Homo sapiens: one gene and its partners. The protein of the gene in region 1 interacts with the protein of each later gene in a biochemical or structural test. Each region holds a gene or a part of one and is shown in the gene's direction. Other genes may lie near its edges. The genes, in order: DOCK1, TAMALIN and CYTH2.

What was found.
Region 2: the proteins of DOCK1 (region 1) and TAMALIN form a complex in vitro, tested with the Homo sapiens proteins (one study listed by BioGRID).
Region 3: the proteins of DOCK1 (region 1) and CYTH2 form a complex in vitro, tested with the Homo sapiens proteins (one study listed by BioGRID).

What each region holds. Positions count from the first base shown.
Region 1 is NC_000010.11:126,900,434-126,908,715, forward strand, and holds the start of DOCK1 (dedicator of cytokinesis protein 1), read left to right. Parts: upstream 1-4,994; 5' UTR 4,995-5,084; coding exon 5,085-5,130; intron 5,131-5,297; exon of another isoform or gene 5,298-8,282. UniProt on the Homo sapiens protein: Involved in cytoskeletal rearrangements required for phagocytosis of apoptotic cells and cell motility. Along with DOCK1, mediates CRK/CRKL regulation of epithelial and endothelial cell spreading and migration on type IV collagen.
Region 2 is NC_000012.12:52,009,705-52,017,185, forward strand, and holds the end of TAMALIN (protein TAMALIN), read left to right. Parts: intron 1-787; exon of another isoform or gene 788-858; intron 859-1,176; coding exon 1,177-1,231; intron 1,232-1,334; coding exon 1,335-1,437; exon of another isoform or gene 1,438-1,478; coding exon of another isoform or gene 1,479-1,503; intron 1,504-3,982; coding exon 3,983-4,076; intron 4,077-4,172; coding exon 4,173-4,239; intron 4,240-4,430; coding exon 4,431-4,497; intron 4,498-4,989; coding exon 4,990-5,495; 3' UTR 5,496-6,185; downstream 6,186-7,481. UniProt on the Homo sapiens protein: Plays a role in intracellular trafficking and contributes to the macromolecular organization of group 1 metabotropic glutamate receptors (mGluRs) at synapses.
Region 3 is NC_000019.10:48,471,568-48,479,604, forward strand, and holds part of CYTH2 (cytohesin-2), read left to right. Parts: intron 1-757; coding exon 758-876; intron 877-1,730; coding exon 1,731-1,811; intron 1,812-2,337; coding exon 2,338-2,450; intron 2,451-2,614; coding exon 2,615-2,763; intron 2,764-3,270; coding exon 3,271-3,382; intron 3,383-6,149; coding exon of another isoform or gene 6,150-6,152; intron 6,153-6,501; coding exon 6,502-6,578; intron 6,579-6,707; coding exon 6,708-6,779; intron 6,780-6,870; coding exon 6,871-7,025; intron 7,026-7,555; coding exon 7,556-7,643; 3' UTR 7,644-8,037. UniProt on the Homo sapiens protein: Acts as a guanine-nucleotide exchange factor (GEF). Promotes guanine-nucleotide exchange on ARF1, ARF3 and ARF6. Activates ARF factors through replacement of GDP with GTP.

The sequences.
Region 1 (8,282 bases):
ATTTAACAGCATATTTGCTCAATGAAACTGATTGAAATTTAACACGTAGGGTCTGCCTTAATGATCTTCTTGGAGAATGCTGAGCAGTGCACCTGGAGTGTGGAGGCAGCGTCCAGGCTATTAGAGTGAAGCCAGTCAAGGTGGCTGCTTCTCAAACTGATTTTTCAATCTCAAGCTCCTCCTTCCTCCACTTTGACTTTATTTTACCAAGGATTTCAAACATGGAGAAAAAAGTAGAAAGATGAAACACTCATAGACCCATATCTAGACTGAGCAATTTTGCTTCATCTTGTTTATTCCTGTAGTATTTTAAATAACAAATACAATGACGGTTCACTTCTAAATACTCCAGCATGCAGCTCTAAAATTTAAGGATCTTTTCCCACCTAACCATAACAACTATTATTATACTTAACAAAATAAAAAAAATACATCATCTAACACCAGTCCATAGTTCAAACCACCTCTTGCCCTTGACATTTTTTTAGTGTTGGATAATTAAAGCAGTTTCCAATTAAGGATAACACAGTGCATTTAAATGTTGTATTTCTTTTCTTTTCTTTTTTTGAGATGGAGTCTTGCTCTGTCACCCAGGCTGGAGTGCAGTGGCGCGATCTCGGCTCACTGCAAGCTCCGCCTCCCGGGTTCACGCCATTCTCCTGCCTCAACCTCCTGAGTAGCTGGGACTACAGGTGCATGCCACCATGCCCGGCTAATTTTTTCTATTTTTAGTAGAGACGGGGTTTCACCATGTTAGCCAGGATGGTCTCGATCTCCTGACCTCATGATCCGCCCACCTCGGCCTACCTAAGTGCTGGGATGACAGGCGTGAGCCACCGCGCCCGGCCAAATGTTGTATTTCTTACATCTTTTAAAATCTAGAACAGCTCTTCTCCACTGGCCCCTTCTTGCTCTATAATATTGACTATTGAAGAGACCAGACTACTACCTGAAAGAATATTCTACCTTCTGGCTTTGTTTCAGTGTCTTTTTTTTTTTTTTTTGAGATGGAGTTTCACTCTTGTTCCCCCAGGCTGGAGTGCAATGGCACGATCTCTGTTCACTGCAACCTCGGCCTCCCGGGTTCCAGTGCTTCTCATGCCTCAGCCTCTTGAGTAGCTGGGATTACAGGTGCCTGCCACCATGCCCAGATATTTTTTTTTAGTAGAGATGGGGTTTCACCACGTTGGCCAGACTAGTCTTGAACTCCTGACCTCAGGTGATCTGCCCATCTCGGCCTCCCAAAGTGCTCAGAGTTACAGGCATGAGCCACGGTGCCTGGCCTGTTTCACTGTATTTCTTATGGTGTCACTTGTTCCTCAACCTCCTCTATTTCCTGTAAGCACGAAGTTGGGTCTAAAGTCTTGAATATACACTTTTGGGCTGGGTGGCATTGTGCATTGTGACTACATGCCTGGTCATCCAGTATGATGCCCAGATCTCCCACTGAATCCAAGAGGCAGTGGGCATAGGCCTTGTTCCTCTCCTTTCAAAGGGCAAAAAATCTGTGGTCAGGCCCCTTTTCCTGCATAAAATCTCCACATCCCTGTTCCATTCTCATCTCTCCCCACCGACTGAGAAACATGCCCCATTGACTCACTGTGCCTTCTGGTACCTCCACCAGGCAAGATTTTGCTGAATTTACCTCCTGAATTTGCAGTGCACATGTGTGAAATTTTTTGGAATTAAAAAAATTAAAACTGTACTTTTCAAGATTTAAAACTGTAATATTGATTGTGTTCTTCATGGCCCCAAAGCAAGATTCTGTTGTATCTTGGAGGAGGGGGGTCACTACTCTGAAATCCCAGTGATGGGCAGCACTGAGCAACTGAGAGCCTCAGCATTCTTGGGCTTGTTCACACCCACAAGCTTGGCACAGATCCAAGTCCTGCAAGATGCCTGGGAGGGCAACTGAGACCTGTGGCCCAGCCACATTGACTCAGGAGGTAAAAATGTCAACAGGCCACAACCTCCAGGGCTCCTGGAATTGGAGACGAAGCCAGTTCTGAGCTTATGCAACCATAGGACAGTGAGAGAGGGCCATGGACTCGATTTAGAGCCACAAGATGAGAGCACTGCTGGAGCACCGTGGGGATGCTGACAAATCTTCTCAGGGCTTCAAGGACCGTGGCTACAGGTACATCTCAGCCAAACTTGGGCACATGTTGCAATCAAGGGACTGAAGCTACAACCACCTGGCCCGTGGTCCACCTGGAGTTTTGTTTTGTTTGTTTTTGAGATGGAGTCTCACTCTGTCACCCAGGCAGGAGTGCAGCGGTGCGATCTTGCTTCACTGCAATCTCCACCTCCTGGGTTCAAACAATTCTCCTGCCTCAGCCTCCTGAGTAGCTGGGACTACAGGTATGCGCACCCACGCCCAGCTAATTTTTGTATTTTTAGTACAGACAGGGTTTCTACTAAAACCCTGGTTGGCCAGGCTGACCTCGAGCTCCTGACCTCAAGTGATCTGCCTGCCTCAGCCTCCCAAAATGCTGGCTGGGATTACAAGCATGGGCCACTGTGCCCGGCCCCACCTGGAGTTTTAAAATTCTGATTTATAAATTTATTATATGACAGTCTACCAAAAGTATGCAAATCCGGCACTACACTTATTTATGCATTCAGTGAGTCACCTTTATCTGAGTGCAAGTGGCAACTGTTCTAGAAAATGGGAACCATGAGGTTATCAAAGAACCTGGAGGTAGGGTCAGATGAGGAAGCACATCATTATGATGTCTTACACATGCAGTCATGTCTCCTCTTATAATCCTAAGACTCACCTGTGAGATTCCTATTACAGCCCCTAGTTTACATGTAGGAATATCAGAACCCCAAGGTTTAGAAACAGAACGGCCAGAAACAGGAGGAGGATGGCCATGCAGCTGGGCGTGGCAAGGCCAGGCCTCCCAAGTCTGCATGACTCTTAAGCTCCTGGCCATTCGTTACAGCACGCCATCTCCAATGCAGAATCACACCAACAGAACTGAAACTGCACATTAAAGAGAAGGCGAGTGTCACCAAAATCTGTTTCCCAGGCTTCTTTGCAGAATTCCAAATTCCTAGCACGACCAATAAGGCCCTTCTTCTACCTCTGCAGCCTCAATTTATGTCACTTTCCTGTTGTTCCCTATGCTTCGGCCATCCTGGCCTTTCTGTGCTCTGAAGGAGTGGTGCTCCTTCCTAAACCAGGGCCTTTTCACGTGCTGTTCCCACTCCAGTTCACCTAGCTGGTTTCTGCTTATCCTTAAAGTCTGGGTTTATCTTATTTCCTCAAGGGAGGCCTCCCTGCTCTGGAGCAGGTCAGGCCACCATGTCCTTTACCGTAGAGCACCCTACTTGTCCTGGACAGCACCTTCACAGATGCTTCTCCTTCAAGGGGTCAGAGTCACCAGGCCACCACTACAGCGCCTGAGCCCCGGAGGTTTCTGATTTCCACAGAAAGCTTCAAGTGCATGCTGTGTGTGAGTGAGCCTGGCCACTTCCTCTGTGGGACTTCAGTTCCTTATCAGTAAAACAGAGCCCGTGGCTTTCCATGAATGTGGGGTTGACTTACCAGAATGCTCAGGTCCCACGTTATCCTCTTGAACGCAGCAGCTTTCCTCTAACCCACGAAAATGGAAAAGCTCCTGTGCCATTCCCAAATACTTATTTAATCTGCATTCTGGGTGGCCCCTAGGGCAGGTGACGGGCATTCTCTACCGCAGGATGGTGCCCCACCTGGTCCTCCCCAGGCCCTGTGGCCATCCTGGCCACCTCCCTGTGGGCTCTCCCAGCCCTGCTGTTCAGCACTGTCCCTACCTCACAGAGGTAGGGACCTCTTTTTCTTACCTTCTTCCTTTTCTTACCTTCGTTCCTCCAATCCCTGACGGCCCCCAGACCTACTGTAGTTGTCTCTGTGTCTTCGGAGAGAAGACACCCCATTAATGTGCCATGAAACCAAATTTATTCCATTTAAAGGGCTGCCTTCATTCGGAGGCTTTGTCCATGTCTTGGTTTTAACCTCTCTTTTCTGAAATTACAGTAAAAATAAATAGGTGTGTGTTGCTTTAACTTTTCCCTTGGAGAAATCTGAAGCCCCCACCTTTTACTGTCATGGGAAACACCAGGGCCTGAGAAGAACTCCCACCTCGGGCGAGGATGCCGTTCCTGAGCCCCACGCGTGGCCTGGGCTTTCCTTTCCCTACTTCTCTCTTCCCCCGACTTCAGCAGATCCTGAGTCCCACAACTATTCTAGCATTAGCTTCTGCAAGCCCAGCTGGGCTGAGGTTTCTGCGGCTGCTTCCTCTTGGTCTCTCTGGAAAACTCCACTCATTCAGCACCCAAGCAAGAGGTCACCTGTCTGGAACGCACTCCCTCGGCAGCGCTGTGCCACCTCTTTCCACCCCATTTGAGTGGCCGGCACTTACCTGTGCTGTTTGTTACCTGACGTGTCCCTTCTCCCACCTACCAGGCAGTTGGTGCGGCGCTCCCAGCACACTCGGGCAATGAGTGGGCAGGCGCTCAGGTAACGTTTGTCGAATGAATGAATGAGCCACGTGCTCAGGAGGACCCTTTCCAGAGCCTCTGCTGGTTTGTTCTGCTCCGGGACTCTCCACCAGGGAGAAATCCGAGCTGGGGACCTCGCACCACCAGGCTCCGGCCTAAGCCCGCGCCTTGCAAGCCGCCCGTTTCCTACCTCCCGTAGAAACCCCCCGTCCGTCCCGCCCCCCTAAGGGCGCACCCCTCTCACGGCGTGAGCGCCAGCCCCGGGAGCTCCAGGAACTCAGGAGAACCCCGCGGGGGTGCCCGGGTGCGGAGCGCGGGGCTGGGCGCACTGGGACAGAGGAAGGGGAGCCCCGGCGACCGCGGGGTCGGGGCCCAGGGTCCGCGCCGAGGGCGGGCGCAGAGCCCGCGGCCGTCCCGCCTCCCGCCGGCGCTCCCGGCCTTTCCCATCCGGCCCGCGACGCTCCGCCCGCCCCGTCCCACATGACGCCGCCTCCGCCGCAAACTTTTTCCTCCCCATCCTGTCGCGGCTCGAAAGGAATGGAAAATGGCGGCCTAGACGCGGAGTTTCCTGCCCGACCCGCGGCGGCTCCGGCGGCGCCATGACGCGCTGGGTGCCCACCAAGCGCGAGGAGAAGTACGGCGTGGGTGAGCAGCGCCGCCGCCGCCGCGCCTCTCGCCCCAAGCCCAGGCTCCGGCGGGGCGGGTGTGCCGGGCGCCTGTTGCCGCCGCCCCGAGCGGCCGCCGGGCCGGGGAGAGGCGCTTCCGCCCGCGCCCGCGCCGCCGCCCCGCTCGCAATGCCCGGCGACCCCGGCCGCCCCGCGCCCCCGGCGGCGTCAGCTCCAGCCCCGGGGATGCGGGTCGGGAACACGAGGGGGTGGGGTGGGAATGGGGGCGGGCGCGTCCCTCCCTAGGGTGTCCCCTCCGACGCCCGCTCCTCTGGACCTCTGCCGTGGAGCCCCCCGGGCTACCCCCAACTCCCCGGCCCCGGCCGCTGCTATCTGCGCGGCTGGGCCCGTCAGGGAAGCCCAGGGGTCACTGTCTCGCGGCGGCTTCTGCTTCTTGGATGAACTTGCGTCCCGCGTCCGGGCTCTGGGTGGGCGGGCTCAGGTCGGCGCGGTCCCAGCGGATAATTCCGCCCTTTCCCGGCGGGGAGGAGGGGGCGCGACCTGGGTGGCCAGCGCCCCTTGCCCCTCGGCGGTCTCGCTGGGGACCGTGTGGGACCTTGGAGAGAAGGCGAGCGGCCGAGCGCCCCAGTGGCCCCAGGCCTGGAGACCCTTCCGGGAGAGCGGGGGCCTGTTTTTGCTCCGCGGCTCTTTGTCGCTTCCGAGGGGGGATGGAAGGAGTCGGGTTGCAAGTTTACATTTCGGACCCGAGTGCGCATTCCTGAGAGGGAGGCTTTCCCTTGCGGCTGAATAGACGGGCCCGTCCGCGTGGGACCCGCATCCTTGCGCCCCGGGGACCCGCAGCCGGTCGCCGAGGCCTGCGGACGCCCACCTCTTCGTGATCTGCGCGCCTGGTGTCGGGACTGGGCCGTGGCTACTCTCCTGCTCTCCCGGGTCCGGGATCTTCCCAGTTGGTTTTCGGGCTTGCTATTCCCCGTCCCACCATCCACAGACATCCTTGACCGCCTGCCTCATCCAGGCCACTCGACCCGACTGGGAAGACCTTTGGTGGTCTCGCCTCCCACAGCCCAGGCTGTGTCCTCCAAGGGCACCGTCTCAGCAGCAGCCCCGCGCCCATTCTGTGCCTGGCCCGTGCTGGACCTGCCCGACCCTCTGCTGGTGTGGTTCGAATCCTGGCTCTCTGACTTTTGGGAAGCGCCCTGGCAGCCCTTGTCCCCGGAGCGCTCTCCTTTCTGTGAACAGTTGCTTCTCTCTGCTGTCAATGACTTACAGTATGCCCTGACCACGGAGCCAGCTGGACAGTGGTCACGGGGACAGTCCTGGGACAGCCCTGGGTCCTACCGGGCCTGCACTTAGCTTGTTCCACATGCTGGGAGGCATAGGGGGCCTCCTTGCTTCAGGACCATTATGACTGAGCTTCCTCCCCATCTCCCCATTTTGCAGATGAGGAAACTGAGGCCCAGACACATTCACAAAAGTGCAGGAGAGCTCATCTGACTGCAGACTCAGTGTGTAACCTGCACCCTGTGCACCACCTAATGGATTCAGTCTGGGGCACTTGGCACGGGCCTTCAGTCTGCATCAGAGGCGAGAGGTTCGGGGTGGATATTCCACCTGAGAATGCTTGGGTTGTGGCGACAGTGGGGGTCCCTGCGGGGGTAGTGTGTAGAGGAGAGAGCTGAGGACTGACTCCCAGGGAACCTAGCACCAGCACACGCAGAGAGAGAGGAAGAGGTGGATAGGCAGGAGAGGCAGGAGGCTGGCAGAGGAGCAGGCATCCCATAGCCCTGGCCCTGCTGAGGAAGCAACTTAGGTGCCCATGGCCAGGGTGCAGTAGTGGCCATTGGGGGTGTAGTGGGGGCCATCGGGGTGCAGTGGGGGCCATCACTGCTCCCATTCTACAGAGGCAAGGAAGAGGTGGATTGCTTGCCTGAGGTCACATCACCAGTAAGTGGTGCCTCCTGGGTGTGAAGTGTGGCCGCCCTGGGTTCAGCTGCCACAGTGTCCTGTGCTTGCCTGCAGATGGGGAGGGCTTCTCTTTGGGACGCCACATTTTAAGAGACCTTGTTACCCTTCGTCTGCCCCCAGAGAGACCTGGATGGTGTCAGTTAGGATCCTATAGTGTAGCTGGATGGTCTGGAGAAGACTGAAAAGAATGTTCGTAGATGGGAGAACGGGGTCTCCTTGCTGGGGAGGAGGCTGAGGGCCAGAACAGGGCGGTGCGCTTGAGTCTCACACCTTCCAGAAGCTTCACCAGCGCTCATGGTGGTGACTTCTAACATCACACCTCTTGCTAATACTTTGGTTTTAAGAAAACTCCATGTTTGATTATTAAGAAAAAATAAATTTAAAAAAGTTAAAAAAAGAAAAAATAGAAAACTGTTGGAAAATTTTAAAAGGCGAAAAGTATCTGGGATGGTTTTGCCAGGAAATGCTAGGAAAGATGTGAAGGGCTGAAGGTAGAGAAGAGAGTGGCTGCTGTGCTTCCTCTCACTGGGTGCAGATGACAGCTTGCTGGGTAGACAGTAATGAGACAGCACCACTCCATCGGCATCCAGAGGCACTTTAACCAGAGTCCCCCATCAGGGAGGGTGGGAGGGGAGCTGAGCATGAGCGCAATGGGGCCATCCCAGGCTCCCCACTTGTCTGCAAGTGTGCAGTGGGAGGATTTTAGTGGTTCTCACGAAGGATGCTGACTGGGAAGGATGTAGGTGCTGGGATGTAGGGATTTATTGCCAGTAGGTGATTGGCTGTTTCCACCTAAGGGAAAATTACTGGAGGACCCCTCCACCATCCTTACCAACTCCAGCATTTTTCGGAGCTTAACAACAGGGCTGTGTTTCCCTGGAGGCGCTCTGGTGGCTCTGTGGGTGGACCACACTTCCACTCTGGCCACTTGGCCCATGAACGAATCACGAGGGGTAAGAAAATGATAAAACTCCATCTCATTTGGAAACATGAATCACAGCTTATTGTTTGCAAGTACTTGGAATCTGTTAGAAGCATTGTTTGTAAATGAGATACTTCAGTTGTATATTTATTTTGTAAAATTGGGAAAGGAGTAAACAGCTGATCTGGGGTTCCTTCTGCAAAGGCAGGAAATGCTGGTTCCTCCCAATTCATTCCACTGGGGGCTGCCTGTGAAATTTACCAGCCCGCGTTTCCCCCTTGGTT
Region 2 (7,481 bases), on another chromosome or scaffold:
GCCCTCTTAGGAGGGATCTGAGCGTGGGCAGAAGTAGGTGCTGACTCCAGGCCCTGGGACCCCACAGTTTCCCTTCTCTACTCATGTCCCATCCCTGATTTGGGCTTGACTTTCTCTAAAATGGATCAGCAAACTGACCTGCTAGCCAGATTGGCCTGTTTGGCCCTTGAGCTAATAATTTTTAAAGAGTTGTAAAAATAAAAACAAATAACAATATATGACAGAGATCATAAGGGGCCTGCAAAGAAAGCCTAAAGTATTTACCATTTGGCCCTTTGCAGAAAAAGTTTGCTGACCCTTCCAAAAAACCCTAGAACATTGGGGTAGACGCGGAACTCCCAGCCACCCTGCTCCCTGCCCCAATAGTACAGAGAGGGGAAAGGCCTGCTGTTCAGAGTGAGAGGGGCTCGAGCTGGAGTGGGGAGGTGCTGCTCAGCATTTGGGGGAATCTCTGGGTCAGGCTGGAAGCGGAGAAGCCTGGTCTCCAGGGCCTTTCCGAGGCTGAGCTACTTGAAGGGGCCTTTGGAGGCTGCTTTAACTGTGCCTCTGGCTGGGCGGGAAGGAAGGGGGTGGGAGTGGGCAGAGGAAACTCTGGGCTCCCCCAGCAGGCGAGGATCTGGAGCAGCTCCAGACCATTGTGTCCAGCGGGCAGGCCTTCAGTGCGGGAAGGGGCGGCCTCGAGGCTCCCCTCCCCCAGCCCCCACATCTGGTGGGCTGGCCCCAGCATAGCTGGGAGGAGCAGCTGTGGTCTTGCTGAGCCTCGTGACTGGCCTCTGGGGGTGGGGCCAGTCCTCTCTCCAAAGCTGTGGAACAGAGGAGGCTCCAGGCTGTGGCTGAATTTCGGGCCTTAGCTAGTCAGTAAGTGGTACTGTAGGGCTCACTGGAAAGCTGGGATGGGGCTAAAAAACTCAGCCGGCTCATCCTTCAGGGGACCGGCCCTTCTCTGTGCTTCCCTCCCACCACTAGAGGCTGGATTGGTTCTCTGTGGCTCCATGAGGCTGATTTCAATTGGGTATGGGAAAGACATTCCAATAATCTGTGATGAGACTGAGCTGTCACTGGAGACAGAGTCCTGCTGGAATGTTCTAGACCAGTTGCCAATATCCAGGGAGGCCCAAGCTATGGGACTTCTACACCTTTTAATCCTAATTGTCTTGACCCCTGTGTCTCTTGCAGGAAAGTGCTGACGTTGGAGAAGGAGGATAACCAGACCTTCGGCTTTGAGATCCAGGTGGGAGAAGCTGCACACAGGGGTCAGGGGGGTTGGATGACCAGCCTGAGGGATGAACGGACTTGTCCCAACCCTGGGCTGAGGGTCCCCTTGTCCATTACAGACTTATGGCCTTCACCACCGGGAGGAGCAGCGTGTGGAAATGGTGACCTTTGTCTGCCGAGTTCATGAGTCTAGCCCTGCCCAGCTGGCTGGGCTCACACCAGGTGGGGCCTGAGCCCAGGACACCCAGGTCTGGGAAGGGGATATGACCTTACTCCCAAGCAAAGGGGGTGAGCAATCTCTCCTGAAATCAATTCCTCTTCCTTTTCCTTCTTTGAGAAGGCCAGAAAGAAGAATGGATAGAATCTGGGCTTTGGATCTAGGCAAATTTGCCATGTACTGTGTGATCTTGCACAGCCCCATCTACAAAATGAGGGTAATAATGCATCCAAACATCACAGTGCGGCAAGGGGATTCCCTGGGCACACTGCCAGGGCCTAATTAATGGTGGATGATGCTGCTGCTGCTCTGATTCCTCCCAGCAACCCTGGCAGTCAGCATGGGCAGGAGCCAGGGAAGAAGCAACATTCCATTAAGTCTGTTTGATATTGGGGATCAGGCCAATCCTGCCCCAAAATGGGCCCAGTGCTGAGGAACCGATGTTACTCCCTTTTAAAAAATTAGAAACTTTTTTTTTTTTTAAGAGACAGGGCCTCAGTCTGTCACCCAGGCTAGAGTGCAGTGGCGTAATCATAACTCACTATAACCTTGAACTCCTGGGCTCAAGCGATCCTCCTCTTGCCTCTGCCTCCCAAAGCAATATGTTACTTCCTCTAACAAGGAAATTATGCTTCAGCAGGAGATCCCTGGATTGAGCAGATCTAGAGTCCCCAGGTTCCAGGAAGGGCAGCCTGAAACTGTATGAATCAATCCCCCCTCCACCATCTTTGCCCCTAAGCCCCTACCTCCTTCCCACTTACCAGCAGCCCGTGCTAGCTATCTTAGTCCATTTTCTGTTACCATAACAGAATACCTGATACTGGGTAATTATAAAGAAAAGAGGTTTATTTAGCTCATGGTTCTGGAGGCTGGGAAGTTCAAGACTGGGTGGCCGCATCAGGTGAGGGCCTCATGCTGCGTTCTGACATGATGGATGGCATCTCATGGCAGGAACGCCTGCAAGAGTGGTGAGTAGGCACACGCAAAAGAGACAAAACATGGGTGATCTTGCTTTATAGCAACCCACTCGCCAGGTAACTAAACCAGTCCTACCAGAGCAAGAACTCACTCCCCAAAAACAGCATGGATCCCTTCACTGGGCAGATCCTTCATGGCCCAAATGCCACTTTTTTTGAGATGGAGTTTCGCTCTTGTTGCCCAGGCTGGAGTGCAATGGCATGATCTCAGCTCACTGCAGCCTCTGCCTCCCAGATTCAAGCAATTCTCCTGCCTCAGCCTCCCGAGTAGCTGGGATTACAGGCACTGGCCACCAAGCCCAGCTCATTTTTGTATTTTTAGTAGAGATGGGGTTTTGCCTTGTTGGCCAGGCTGGTCTCGAACTCCTGACCTCAGGTGATCCACCCGCCTCGGCCTCCCAAAGTGCTGGGATTACAGGTGTGAGCCACGGCGCTCGGCCCCAAATGCCTCTTAAAGGTCCTACCATCTCTCAGCACTGTTACGTTGGGGATGAAGCCTCAACATGAGTTTTGGGGACAAACAATATTTAAATGGTAGCAGTAGCCAAGTGGTATACTACAACTTCTCAAAGTAGTTTCAAATCCACTCTCCCTCCCCATCATCCCTGAAGCATCCACAGCAGGGATCCATACCCCTTTTTACAGATAGGAATGGGGCCCTGACATGGGGCACACTGTGCTTGAGGTCAGGAAGCTCTCCAGTGGTGCAGGGTAGCAGAACTATCCCTCTGGGGGCCAGTCATTCCCTGTGCTTCTCTCCCACCACCAGAGGCTGGACTGATTATCTGTGGATCCATGAGGCCATGCCATGCCTGGGGCCAGGGTCGGTTCCCAGCTGGGTGCTGCTCACCTGCTCTTCCCTGAATTGACTGGGTCTTATGGCCAGCGTGGACTGGACAGAAATAACCAAATCTGAGGGTAGCCCAGGGTCCTGGGTGGGCTTAGCTTTGGGACAGAACTTCTTTTTTTTTTTTTTTTTTTTGAGACGGAGTCTCGCTCTGTCGCCCAGGCTGGAGTGCAGTGGCGCGATCTCGGCTCACTGCAAGCTCCGCCTCCCGGGTTCACGCCATTCTCCTGCCTCAGCCTCCCGAGTAGCTGGGACTACAGGCGCCTGCTACCACGCCCGGCTAATTTTTTGTATTTTTAGTAGAGACGGGGTTTCACCGTGTTAGCCAGGATGGTCTCGATCTCCTGACCTCGTGATCCGCCCGCCTCGGCCTCCCAAAGTGCTGGGATTACAGGCGTGAGCCACCGCGCCCGGCCGGACAGAACTTCTTGAGGGCAGAGTGAGGGTGTTGGGTGTGTGAGGTCCCCACCCTTTGGCTGGGGTGCTGGGCGTGGACAACCTGGTAGTCACTACAGGCCCACAAGAATGGCTGTGGTTCTGTGTGTTTGGATCGAGTATGAGAGATGTCAGAGGAGATCTACAGAGAACCATGAGGAGTTGGAGGAGGGAGTTCAGGAGTATTCCCTGGAGTTACTACCCACCCTTCTCCCCTTTCTGGCTAAGGTAGGAGGCTGGTATTCTAGCATGCCCCATGGAGCAAATCTAACCCCCTTGTCTGCCTGGCAGGGGACACCATCGCCAGCGTCAATGGCCTGAATGTGGAAGGCATCCGGCATCGAGAGATTGTGGACATCATTAAGGCGTCAGGCAATGTTCTCAGGTATGTCTGGGAGCCGAGGTGCCTGAATTCCTGAGCTCAGCCTCTTGGTATTTCCTCAGCCTGTGGCTCACTCAGGCTTTGATTCTCCAACCTCAGACTGGAAACTCTATATGGGACATCAATTCGGAAGGCAGAACTGGAGGCTCGTCTGCAGTACCTGAAGGTAGGGGAACCTAGATAACGTCCAGCCTCCACCCTCCTCTTCCCAAGCCTCTGCCCTGTGGGGGGTCACTTACAGCTGAATCTCCTGTAACTGAAGATTTCTTTTGTCTACTCCCTGATCCCTCGTCTGTACCCACGTCCTGCTAGTTTCCTGCTAGCTTGTGACAGTGGGGTGGGGACTGTCTCTTGCAGCAAACCCTGTATGAGAAGTGGGGAGAGTACAGGTCCCTAATGGTGCAGGAGCAGCGGCTGGTGCATGGTGAGTAGATCCCGGGGTGTGAGGGGCCACTTGTTCTGCTACAGACACCCCATCTGCGCTTCCCCCTCAGAACTGGCGGGTTCTAGTAAAGAACGGTTTACTAGTAAACCTCCACAGTAAAGCAAGGTTTGTTGAGCTACTACTACTTTGGGTACTGCCGCAGCCACATTTCTGGTTATTCTCACACTAGCCCTCTGCAGGTAAGTAACAGATAGTGTCATCTTCACTTTACAGAGGGGAACACCAGGGCTCAAAGAGTTTGTGTCAATTATTTCCGAGGCCCGTTTGTGCTAAGCGGCCCCCATAAGGATCTGAGTGATAATTCCTGATTTGCGGGTGAGGGAAGTAGGGTCTCAGGTTTGTGCCTGGCCAGGGCCACAGAGATGGTCAGCAGGACGGAGCGGGGACGCCCCGCCCATGCCCTCCGACCCTTTGCAGAGGCCACCACGGTCCAGGCCTGACCCGCCCCCTACCTCTCCCGTCTCTGCGCAGGCCTGGTGGTGAAGGACCCCAGCATCTACGACACGCTGGAGTCGGTGCGCTCCTGCCTCTACGGCGCGGGCCTGCTCCCGGGCTCGCTGCCCTTCGGGCCTCTGCTCGCCGTGCCCGGGCGTCCCCGCGGAGGCGCCCGACGGGCCAGGGGCGACGCCGACGACGCCGTCTACCACACGTGCTTCTTCGGGGACTCCGAGCCGCCGGCGCTGCCGCCCCCGCCGCCCCCGGCCCGCGCCTTCGGCCCGGGCCCCGCCGAGACCCCTGCCGTGGGGCCGGGCCCTGGGCCGCGGGCCGCGCTGAGCCGCAGCGCCAGTGTGCGGTGCGCGGGCCCTGGCGGGGGCGGAGGCGGGGGCGCGCCGGGCGCGCTCTGGACTGAGGCTCGCGAGCAGGCCCTATGCGGCCCCGGCCTGCGCAAAACCAAGTACCGCAGCTTCCGCCGGCGGCTGCTCAAGTTCATCCCCGGACTCAACCGCTCCCTGGAGGAGGAGGAGAGCCAGCTGTAGGGGCGGGGGCGGGCAGGGAGGTATTTATTTATTTATTCGCAACAGCCAGCGCTAAAAGAGGGGGAGGCCGAGCCAAGAGGACCCCAGGAGCCCAGAGCAGCGGGAGAGGGTCCTTCCTAGCCTCGGCCCGCCGGGTCGGTTCCTGGCTGGTGTCTGCTGAGGGAGTGGGGGGCCCAGCCCCTTCTCTTCTCCCCCGCCAAACCACAGTGGGAGCTGGGGCAGGGGGAGAGCCAGGCAATCGGGGGCCAAAGATGGGGGTGCTCGCCTACAGTCTGCATCTGTAGTGCCTTGTGGGGTATCCAGGAACACCCTCCCAGCAGGGGATGGGAACCCTGTCCCATGAAGCCCTCTCCTCAGCTTTACTTGCTCCCCCGCCCTTAGCCTTGGGGAGAAATGGCCCGTGGTGGGCTGACCCCCCACCCTCCACACACACAGTTCCATGACCCAGCGGGCCCCCAGGGGCATCAGGTGCTGGTCCTCCTCCCTCCTGGCCTCGACCCCTAAGGGCTTCGCCCCTCCCAGGGGCCTGTAACTAAGTCGGGTCCTGCCAGGCAGGGGGCCTGTGTTCTGTGCCCCTTGGGAGACAGGAACTGGCGAGTTCAGGTGGGGTGGGGACAGCACAGACTGTTCCACCGTTGTGCATATTGTTGCTTCTGAACCACAAACTGTATAAATGGATGGTTTTTTGCATCTGTGTCAGTGTGGTGACTGCCTGAGGGGGAGGATTGGGCTGGGGCAAGCTCTGACTCCACCATCCCAACCCCCGCCCAACGCACACACATCTTGTTTTCTTGCAGCCTGAAGCCAGGGAAATAGGCTGGGAGATTTAAACTTACATGTATGGGCCTGAGCTGGAGGCCCCACGCTTCTTCACAACTTGAGCCTCCCTCCCCAGATACCCAAGCAGGTGGTGACCAAGGCTTGCCTCAAGTCCTTAGCCATCCCTGTAGAAATACGTGTGCTTGGCATGCCTTTCTTCCCAGCTTCTGAGGTCTCCCTTGAGGGGCACAAGCCAGATCTGTAGGGACCTGAGGCATTACCACCTGGCCTGTGAGGGGCCCAATCACGGCTCACTCTGTTGTTCTAGCAGTCTTCAGCGGTTTCCCACCCCAGGATGAGATTTTTCTTTTTTGAGATGGAGTCTCCCTCTGTTGCCCAGGCTGGAGTGCAGTGGCCCGATCTCAGTTCATTGTAACCTCTGTCTCCTGGATTCAAGTGATTCTCCCGCCTCAGCCTCCCGAGTAGCTGAGGTTACAGGCAGGCGCCACCACACCCAGCTAATTGTTGTATTTTTAGTAGAGACGGGGTTTCACCATGTTGGCCAGGCTGGTCTCGAACTCCTGACCTCAGGTGATCTGCCTGCCTTGGCCTCCCAAAATGCTGAGATTACATGCGTGAGCCACCGCGCCCGGCCTCCCAGGATGAGAGTCTGACCCCTGCCGGCCTCTGCTTCTTACTCCCCGCTCTGGCTGCGCTGCTGGCTGTACCTGGCACACTTCAGACCCCTTCTATCAGGGTCTGTGCTCTTACCCCTCCCACAGGTGGCTCCTTCAGTCCTCAGCCCTGCCTCCCGAAGACCTTCCCACCCAGTGGTAAATACAGTCATGCCCTCCCCTGTGACAGCCCTGTTTTATTCCCATCAGACTGTGCATCGCCATCCGAGACTGTCTTGACTTTTATGGGTTTATCTTTGCCTGCCCGCCCCACCCGGGAGGATGCACGCTTCTTGCACAGGGCTCAGGAGCCTTGTCTGTCTTCACTGCTTTTTTCTTGCCTGATGCTAGCACATGGTAGACCCTCAATACAGTGTGTGCCAACATGGTGTGTGCTCAAGCATCTCCAAGTGGTAGTCACGACCTCTTTGAAGTGACCTGTCGGGTCATACAGCAAGCTAGTGTCAGAGCTGGGCCTGGGACTTGAGGCCCCTGCTCCAGTGCTCCTCCCGGGGAGTAACCAGCATGCAAAGGGTGGCTTTGAGAGAGGTCT
Region 3 (8,037 bases), on another chromosome or scaffold:
TTGGACACCGATACCACAGTTCACAGTGAGATAAAGCAGTAGTAGAGAGGTCTTCGTAGCACAGAGAGTGAGAGAAACCTCCAGTCTAGCCAGGGCTTCGAGTTCACAGCCCTTGAAGGACTGCGTCTGCTAACAGGTTGTCACGTTATTCTTTCCTGAAGCAATTGGAATTCTGTTCAGTCATTCAACAAACATTGATTGGCTGGGTTCGGTGGCTTATGCCTGTAATCCCAGTGCTTTGAGAGGCCGAGGAGGGAGGATTGCTTGAAGCCAGGAATTTGAGACCAGCCTGGGCAGCATAGTGATAACTCATCTCTAGAAAAAATATAAATAAATAAATTAGCCAGGTGTGTTGGGGCATGCCTATAGTCCCAGCTTCTGAGGAGGCCGAAGTGAGAGGATCCCTTGAGCCCAGCAGTTCGAAGCTGCAATGAGCTGTGATCACGCCACTGCACTCCAGTCTGCAATAGAGCGAGACCAGGTCTCAGAAAAAAGAGAAAATGTACTGAGCACCTGTGCCTTGCCAGACCCTGTTGTTGGTGCTGGAATTAACCAGGCAAAGGCAGAGAGGGTAGGCCATGAAGTGCAAAGGCCATGAGTTGGGAAGAATGCTATTTAAGACCTGTGAGAAGGCTGAAAATGAAACCTGGCCCTGGTCTGTTGAGGGTGGGGGTAGGTCTGGATGCTGAGGTTCCCAGGGAGGTGAGTGGGGTGGCTTTCTGGCCCTCAGCACTGAGACCTTGTCCCCACCCACCAGGGGATCCAGTTCTTGGTGGAGAATGAACTGCTGCAGAACACACCCGAGGAGATCGCCCGCTTCCTGTACAAGGGCGAGGGGCTGAACAAGACAGCCATCGGGGACTACCTGGGGGAGAGGTACGGTCACCACTCAGCTCCTGTGGGGCCCCTCCCTCCCACCCCCCAGACCCAGCTCCTGCCCTCACACTGGCAGCTCACAGGTGGAACAGCCCTGCAGCCTCCCCGCAGAGGGGCCCTGGCAGATCAGCCTTCTGACTGGACTGTGACAGAATGGACTGACATGGGCTAGGGGAGCCTGCGGCCAACCGAGAGCATCTGGGGATGTGGGGCCTTCTGGAATTACCTGGCAGTTGTGGGGAAGCATCCATTTATGTCTGAGAAGGGTAGAGAACATCTCTCAAGGATCATGGGAGCTTGAGAACCGTGGGTAGACCATGGCTGTGCATAGGCACTGGGTGGCCATCTGGGAGCTGTGGGGACCGCTGGGCCCTTGTGGGAGCTTAGGAGTTGTGGGGGTCATTTGGAAGCCTAGGGTGCACAGGACTGGACATCAGATGATTGGAGGCCATCTGTGGACGTCTGGGAATCAGGGATTTATAGAGATCTGGGGTGCTTGGGAAGCATCTCTGGATGTCTGGGGGATGTGGGGGCTGTGTCTGGATACCTGGGGAGCATGGGGATCATTTGAGAGAGGTGACAGTAGGTAGCATACATGTTTGCGGCATTTCTCCCAACTGTACAAAGGTCTGGCCTAAGCAGGGTTCCCAAGCCAGATATTCCTCCCAAGAGTGTGTTCTGAGCATCCCCCACCCTGGGGGCAGGCCTGTGTGGGAGTCCAGCAGGAAACTTCACCCTCGGCAGTGGGCAGCTGTGGTGCAGTAGAGGGGGCACGACTTCCCCAGGGCATTGCCCTTTGCCCATTCCTGCCCCATCCTTTCCAAACTGTATGTGTCTTTGTCCCATCCTTCCAGGGAAGAACTGAACCTGGCAGTGCTCCATGCTTTTGTGGATCTGCATGAGTTCACCGACCTCAATCTGGTGCAGGCCCTCAGGTGAGTGAGGGGGAGGGGTTTGGAACGCCAGGAATGTACCTGTCAGGGCCTTCCTAGTTACAAGTGACAAACCTTACTCAAGAAAAAAACAGAAACAAGCAAAACAGAAACAAAAACTAGGGAACTGAGTGTGTCCTGCACCATAAAAGTTCAGGGTTATGGCCTCCTTCAGGTATGGCTATATCCAGGAGCTCAAATGGTGGTCAGAAAGTCGACTTTCTTTGCCTCTTGTATTTGCCACTGTGTCAGCATTGCTCTCTGCAGACCCGCTTACCTGATAACAAGCCTCAACCAACCCCCAGACCTGTCTAGCGAACTTAGCAGAAAGAGGCTATTTCTGTAGGGATTCACAACACTCCCGTGGCCAATGCCCATTGGTGAGACTGGATCATGTGACCATACCTGAAACAACTGCTGAGGCCGGAAGGTCGGGATTCCTCGTGGACCAGTTCCTAACACAGGGACTGAGAGTGGGGACAGGCTCCCACCAGCCCTGGCATCCATTCCTGGCCCCTCCCCAACCCAGGCAGTTTCTATGGAGCTTTCGCCTACCCGGAGAGGCCCAGAAAATTGACCGGATGATGGAGGCCTTCGCCCAGCGATACTGCCTGTGCAACCCTGGGGTTTTCCAGTCCACAGGTGCGGGCCCCAAATCCTGGGTCCTGGGAAAGAGGAGACTGGGGCCCAGACTCCTAGGTCTGAGGGAGGGAGGGGGCTGGGAGCTGGGAATCCTGGGTCCTGGGGAATGGGGGCACTGGGGACTGACATGCCTGGGTCGTCACCACCTGCCCTGTCCGGTGCAGACACGTGCTATGTGCTGTCCTTCGCCGTCATCATGCTCAACACCAGTCTCCACAATCCCAATGTCCGGGACAAGCCGGGCCTGGAGCGCTTTGTGGCCATGAACCGGGGCATCAACGAGGGCGGGGACCTGCCTGAGGAGCTGCTCAGGGTCAGTCCCCCTTCCCTGCCCCTCAGCCCTGCCCCTCTTCCTGCCACAGACACCCCCGCCCCACCTGTGGTCTCCTAGTGCCCAAGCTGTCTGCCCTCACCCCCAAGATGGTGCGATCATGCCAACTCGTGTGTGATCTTTTTCTCTCTCTCTGGGTGCTTCTCTTCTTGACTGTCTCTCTCAGGCTTTGGCCCTGACAATTTTGGCCTGTCTGTCTTCTCTGTCTCTGGCTGTTGGGCTTTCCGGCCCTCGATTGGCCTCATTCCCCATCTGTCTGTTTCTCTGAGGACGTAGCCGGCTCCTCCACCTATCACCAGGGCATCTCTTCTTTCCTCCGCCACCTCAGCCTCCCTCCACTTCTCTGCCTTTCACTTCCCTCTCCTCCCCACTACCCCTCTCTCTTCCCCACTATGAGTCATCCCATCCCTGGTCTCGCTGCCCCCCACCCTGAGTAACCCTGGGGGGCCCCAGGGGGCTCGAATGGCTAATGCAGCCTTTACTCCTCAGAACCTGTACGACAGCATCCGAAATGAGCCCTTCAAGATTCCTGAGGATGACGGGAATGACCTGACCCACACCTTCTTCAACCCGGACCGGGAGGGCTGGCTCCTGAAGCTGGGTACGTGCCCTCCCGACCCCGCTGGTCCCTCCGCAGGAGGACATTTGTGGGCCTGGGCCCTGGACTCAGCTTCCGCACACACCTGCTGCCTGAACTGAGGCAAATGATTCGACCTCTCTGAACCTCAGTTTTCCACACCCAAAAAATGGGGCTGAAAATAAAATCAGGCCTGTGTGCTGGGCCTGGCCTGTAGTAAGTACTTCCCAACCCCTTCTCTTGACCCACAAATGTTGATGGAGCCCTTCTGTGCCAGGCCCTGAGCTGGGCTGAGGAGGCAGTGAGAGGCAGCTGACATTGTCCTTTCGTGGGAGAAGAGTTCACTCAGGCTTCTTTCCACTGCGTTAACCCAGCCCGAGGGAGCCAAACCCCTGGAATCTATTCCCCTTGGCAAGAACTCCCAGGGTTCCAGGCAGGACTGACCCCGCACTCCGAGGCATCAGGCCCAGAGCACTTGGCTGATCCAGGTGCCATCCTTCCCGAAACACCACCCACAGGCAGAAAAGAGCCAAACAGGCCAGGAAACCTGTCCCAGATTCTGGCTTCCAGCTGTGGAGGGAATAGCCAGGGCTGGTGCAGATGAGTCGGGAAACCCAGCAGAGATGGAGGGGGGAGTCTTCGTCATAACACGTGGCACTGGCACATTCAAGGTCGGTTAGCATGGATCAGACAGGATCGTAGCATGATGAGGGGTTAGCACAAGGACTAGAGTGGTTCTCAGCCCTGGCTGTACATGAGATTTGCCTGGGCAACTCGAAAACTCCGGTGGCTGGGCCATAGACTCCTGAAGTCAGGCTCTCAGGAGCAGAAGGGCCATCAGTCATCGTTTAAGCTCCTCGGGTGCTCCCAATGCATAGTCAAGGTTGAGAGCTACTGGCCTGGAGCCGTGCCTGGTAACAGTAGGTGCCACCTGCGTGTTAGATGTGGTTTATAATGGAGACACGGTGCACAGCTGCTCCAGAGAGACACATCTGGGCAGTTACAGTCCAGCACAGCAGTGGAGGCTTCCCGCGGCAGCAGGAGAGCCCACAGGAAGCTTTCAGCTCAGTGAAGGGAGTCAAGGTCAGGCTTCTTGGAAGGAGGTTGGACAGGGCAGCTTTGGCCTCTGAGTCTTGGGGGCCTCCCCATGTGGAACTGTGCTCTTAAACCAGGGCATCACCACCTCAACAGATGCCAGGGTTTCCTGGTAAATGTAAAATACACAAGTCAGGCAGGGCACAGGGGCCCACCCCTGTAATTTCAGCACTTTGGGAGGACAAGGCAGGAGGATTGTTAGAGGTCAGGAGTTTGAGACCAACCTGGGCAATATAATGATACCCCCCATCTCTACAAAAAATAAAAAAATTAGCCAGGCATGGTGATGTGGGAGGATTGTTTGAGCTCAAGTGGTCGAGGCTTCAGTGAGTCATGGTTGCGCCACTGCAGTCCAGCCTGGGCAACAGAGCGAGACCCCGTCTCTATAAAATAAAACATGCAAATCACTGTCCAGCCAACACCCCAGTCCAGATCCCTGCATTCGATCCAAGGGAGGCAGACTGCTGGGGGAAATTGAGAGTCCTCGAGGTGCCCCTGGCAGTGAGCGGGCCAGAAAGAGAAGCAGGAAGGCGCCAGCATCACGAGGAACTGCTTCCCTCAAAACTGCTGTCAGGCCAGGCACGGTGGCTCAGGCCTGTAATCCCAGCACTTTGGGAGGCTGAGGCAGGCAGATCACTTGAGGTCAGGAGTTTGAGACCAGCCTGGCCAACATGGTGAAACCCCGTCTCTACTAAAAATACAAAAATTAGCCGGGCGTGGTGGCAGGCACCTGTAATCCCAGCTACTTGGGAGGCTGAGGCACAAGAATTGCTTGAACCCAGGAGGTGGAGCTTGCAGTGAGCCGAGATCACACCATTGCAAATCCAGCCTGGACGACAGAGCGAGACAGTCTCAAAAAAACAAAACAAAACAAAAACTGCTCCTGTGAGCAGTAACTTTCCCATTTCCCAGAGGCTCACGCCTCAGTTTGGTTCTGAGCCCCACCTAAGGCTGCCCAGCCCCAGGGACATCTCTGACCAAAGGGCCTCTGTTCCCTTTGTGCCAGTTAGAGGGACCCCTTCCTTAAAAGATGGAAATACAGGAGTGGAGATTGGTGATGGTGGTTGCTACTCCATGCCTAATAAAAGCCATTCTTACTGTCATTGTTTAACCCTGGGCCCACAAGGAAGCCAGCAGCAGGTCATTTTGCCACAGGAAGGTGTAGGCCCGAGTGAGTCTCCAGGCTGGAGTCCAGAGAGTCCAAGAGAGTGCCCTGAGGTCACACAGCCAGTTTGTGCAGGAGCTGAGATGGGCCCTCACACCCACCTCAGACCAAGGGCTGGGGGTTTTGCCTTCTGTCCTGTGGGGGCCTCCTCCAGGGCAGAGGCACTTTTACCATGTCAAGGGAGGATGCTCCTGGCCTAGGACAGACCCTAGGGGGTAGGCTGGGGCCCTGTACCGAAGCAAGGGGTTTTCAAGGCTGCCACCCGGGGCTCATGGCCCTTGGCCTCTCTGGGAGGGAGGAGCCCCGGCCATCCCCACCCTCGTGGATGTAACTGGTTTTCTTCCCTCTCTCTCCCTCCCCTCCTCTCTGCGTCTTTCCCTCTCTCCTGTGTTTGCCTCTCTGTCCTGCCCCTGCGCACCCCTCCCTGTGCCCACCCTGTTTCTGTCGCCTGCGGCTCTTGGGGGTGCTCCATTCTCCCGCCTTCCCTTCTCCTGCACCTGGTCCTGCCTGCTTTCTCGCTGTCTGCCCCAGGAGGTAGGTACACGACCTGTCTTTGTCTCCCATCACTAGACGAGGGGAGGGGGCTGCCCTGGCGCCCTGGCGCCCTGGCCTCCTGCCCACAGGAGGAGGGGGCTGGGGGCTCAGGCTCCTGGGCTGGGACTGACAGACTCAGAAAATGTGGAGCCCCAAGCTGGGGGTGGACGATTCCTGGAGCCCCAACATGCCTGGCCCTGCTTGTCTGTCTCCCCCAACGCAGCGGCTTTGTCTAGGCCCCAGGAGCCCCACCTCTACCGCTCTTGCTCTGCTTCTCACGCCCCTCCCATCTCCCAGAGGCCCTGTCCCCCTGTTGAGCCCAGGCCCCCTCCCACCCCTTCCCTTTCAGGGGGCCGGGTGAAGACGTGGAAGCGGCGCTGGTTTATCCTCACAGACAACTGCCTCTACTACTTTGAGTACACCACGGTGAGCGTGACCCGACCCGGGCTCTGGGGTCCTGGGCGGAGTGGCTGGGAGCCTGGACTCCTGGGGCTGAGGGAGGTGGGGTGGGGTGAGGACTTGGAAGTCTGAGTTCTGTCCACCTTGCTTCTTCAGGACAAGGAGCCCCGAGGAATCATCCCCCTGGAGAATCTGAGCATCCGAGAGGTGGACGACCCCCGGAAACCGGTAAGACCCTCTCTGTACACCTTCCTGCCAGGGCGGGGCCTCCTCTGCCCAGGGCTGGTTCTTACCTGCGCCCTTCCTCTCTCGTCCCCAGAACTGCTTTGAACTTTACATCCCCAACAACAAGGGGCAGCTCATCAAAGCCTGCAAAACTGAGGCGGACGGCCGAGTGGTGGAGGGAAACCACATGGTGTACCGGATCTCGGCCCCCACGCAGGAGGAGAAGGACGAGTGGATCAAGTCCATCCAGTGAGCCTGGACTCCTGGGCCTGATGGAGGAGGGGCTGGGGCCTGGACTCCTGGGTCTGATGGAGGAGGGGCAGGGGCCTGGATGCCTGGGTCTGATGGAGGAGGGGCTGGGGCCTGGACGCCTGGGTCTGACGGAGGAGGGGCTGGGGCCTGGACTCCTGGGTCTGACGGAGGAGGGGCAGGGGCCTGGACACCTGGGTCTGACGGAGGAGGGGCCGGGGGCCTGGACCCCTGGGTCTGACGGAGGAGGGGCCGGGGGCCTGGACTCCTGGGTCTGACGGAGGAGGGGCCGGGGGCCTGGACTCCTGGGTGTGAGGGAGGAGGGGCCGGGGGCCTGGACTCCTGGGTCTGAGGGAGGAGGGGCCGGGGGCCTGGACTGCTGGGTCTGAGGGAGGAGGGGCCGGGGGCCTGGACTCCTGGGTCTGAGGGAGGAGGGGCCGGGGGTCTGAGACTCCTCCTGGGTATGAGGGAGGAGGGGCTGGAGGCCTGGACTCCTTGGCCCTCATCCTGGGACCCCTCCCCTTCTGCAGGGCGGCTGTGAGTGTGGACCCCTTCTATGAGATGCTGGCAGCGAGAAAGAAGCGGATTTCAGTCAAGAAGAAGCAGGAGCAGCCCTGACCCCCTGCCCCCAACTCCATTATTTATTACGGAGCTGCCCCGCCTGGGTGGCCGGACCCCTGGGCCTTGGGGCTGTGGATCCTGGTTCCCTGTTTGGAAAATTCACCACCTCTAGCTCCTCACTGTTCTTTGTAATTAACACGCTGTTGGTAATCTTATTAATTATTTAACCACTTGGCCTGCTGACCCCCTCATTTCTTGGGGTTGACAGAGTCGAGGTGCTCCGTGGAGCCAGCCTGTTTCCCTGGACAGGGGCCTGGACCCGCCTGTCTCTGGGTGCTGCCTGGGCTGTCCCGGTGGGTCTGTTCTGGTTTCACCCCGAGCCCAGCAGGAGTGGAGTAAAGGGAGAAGGTTAATATGGTGGGAGTCTGGAGTTGGAATTGGCCGGGGACAG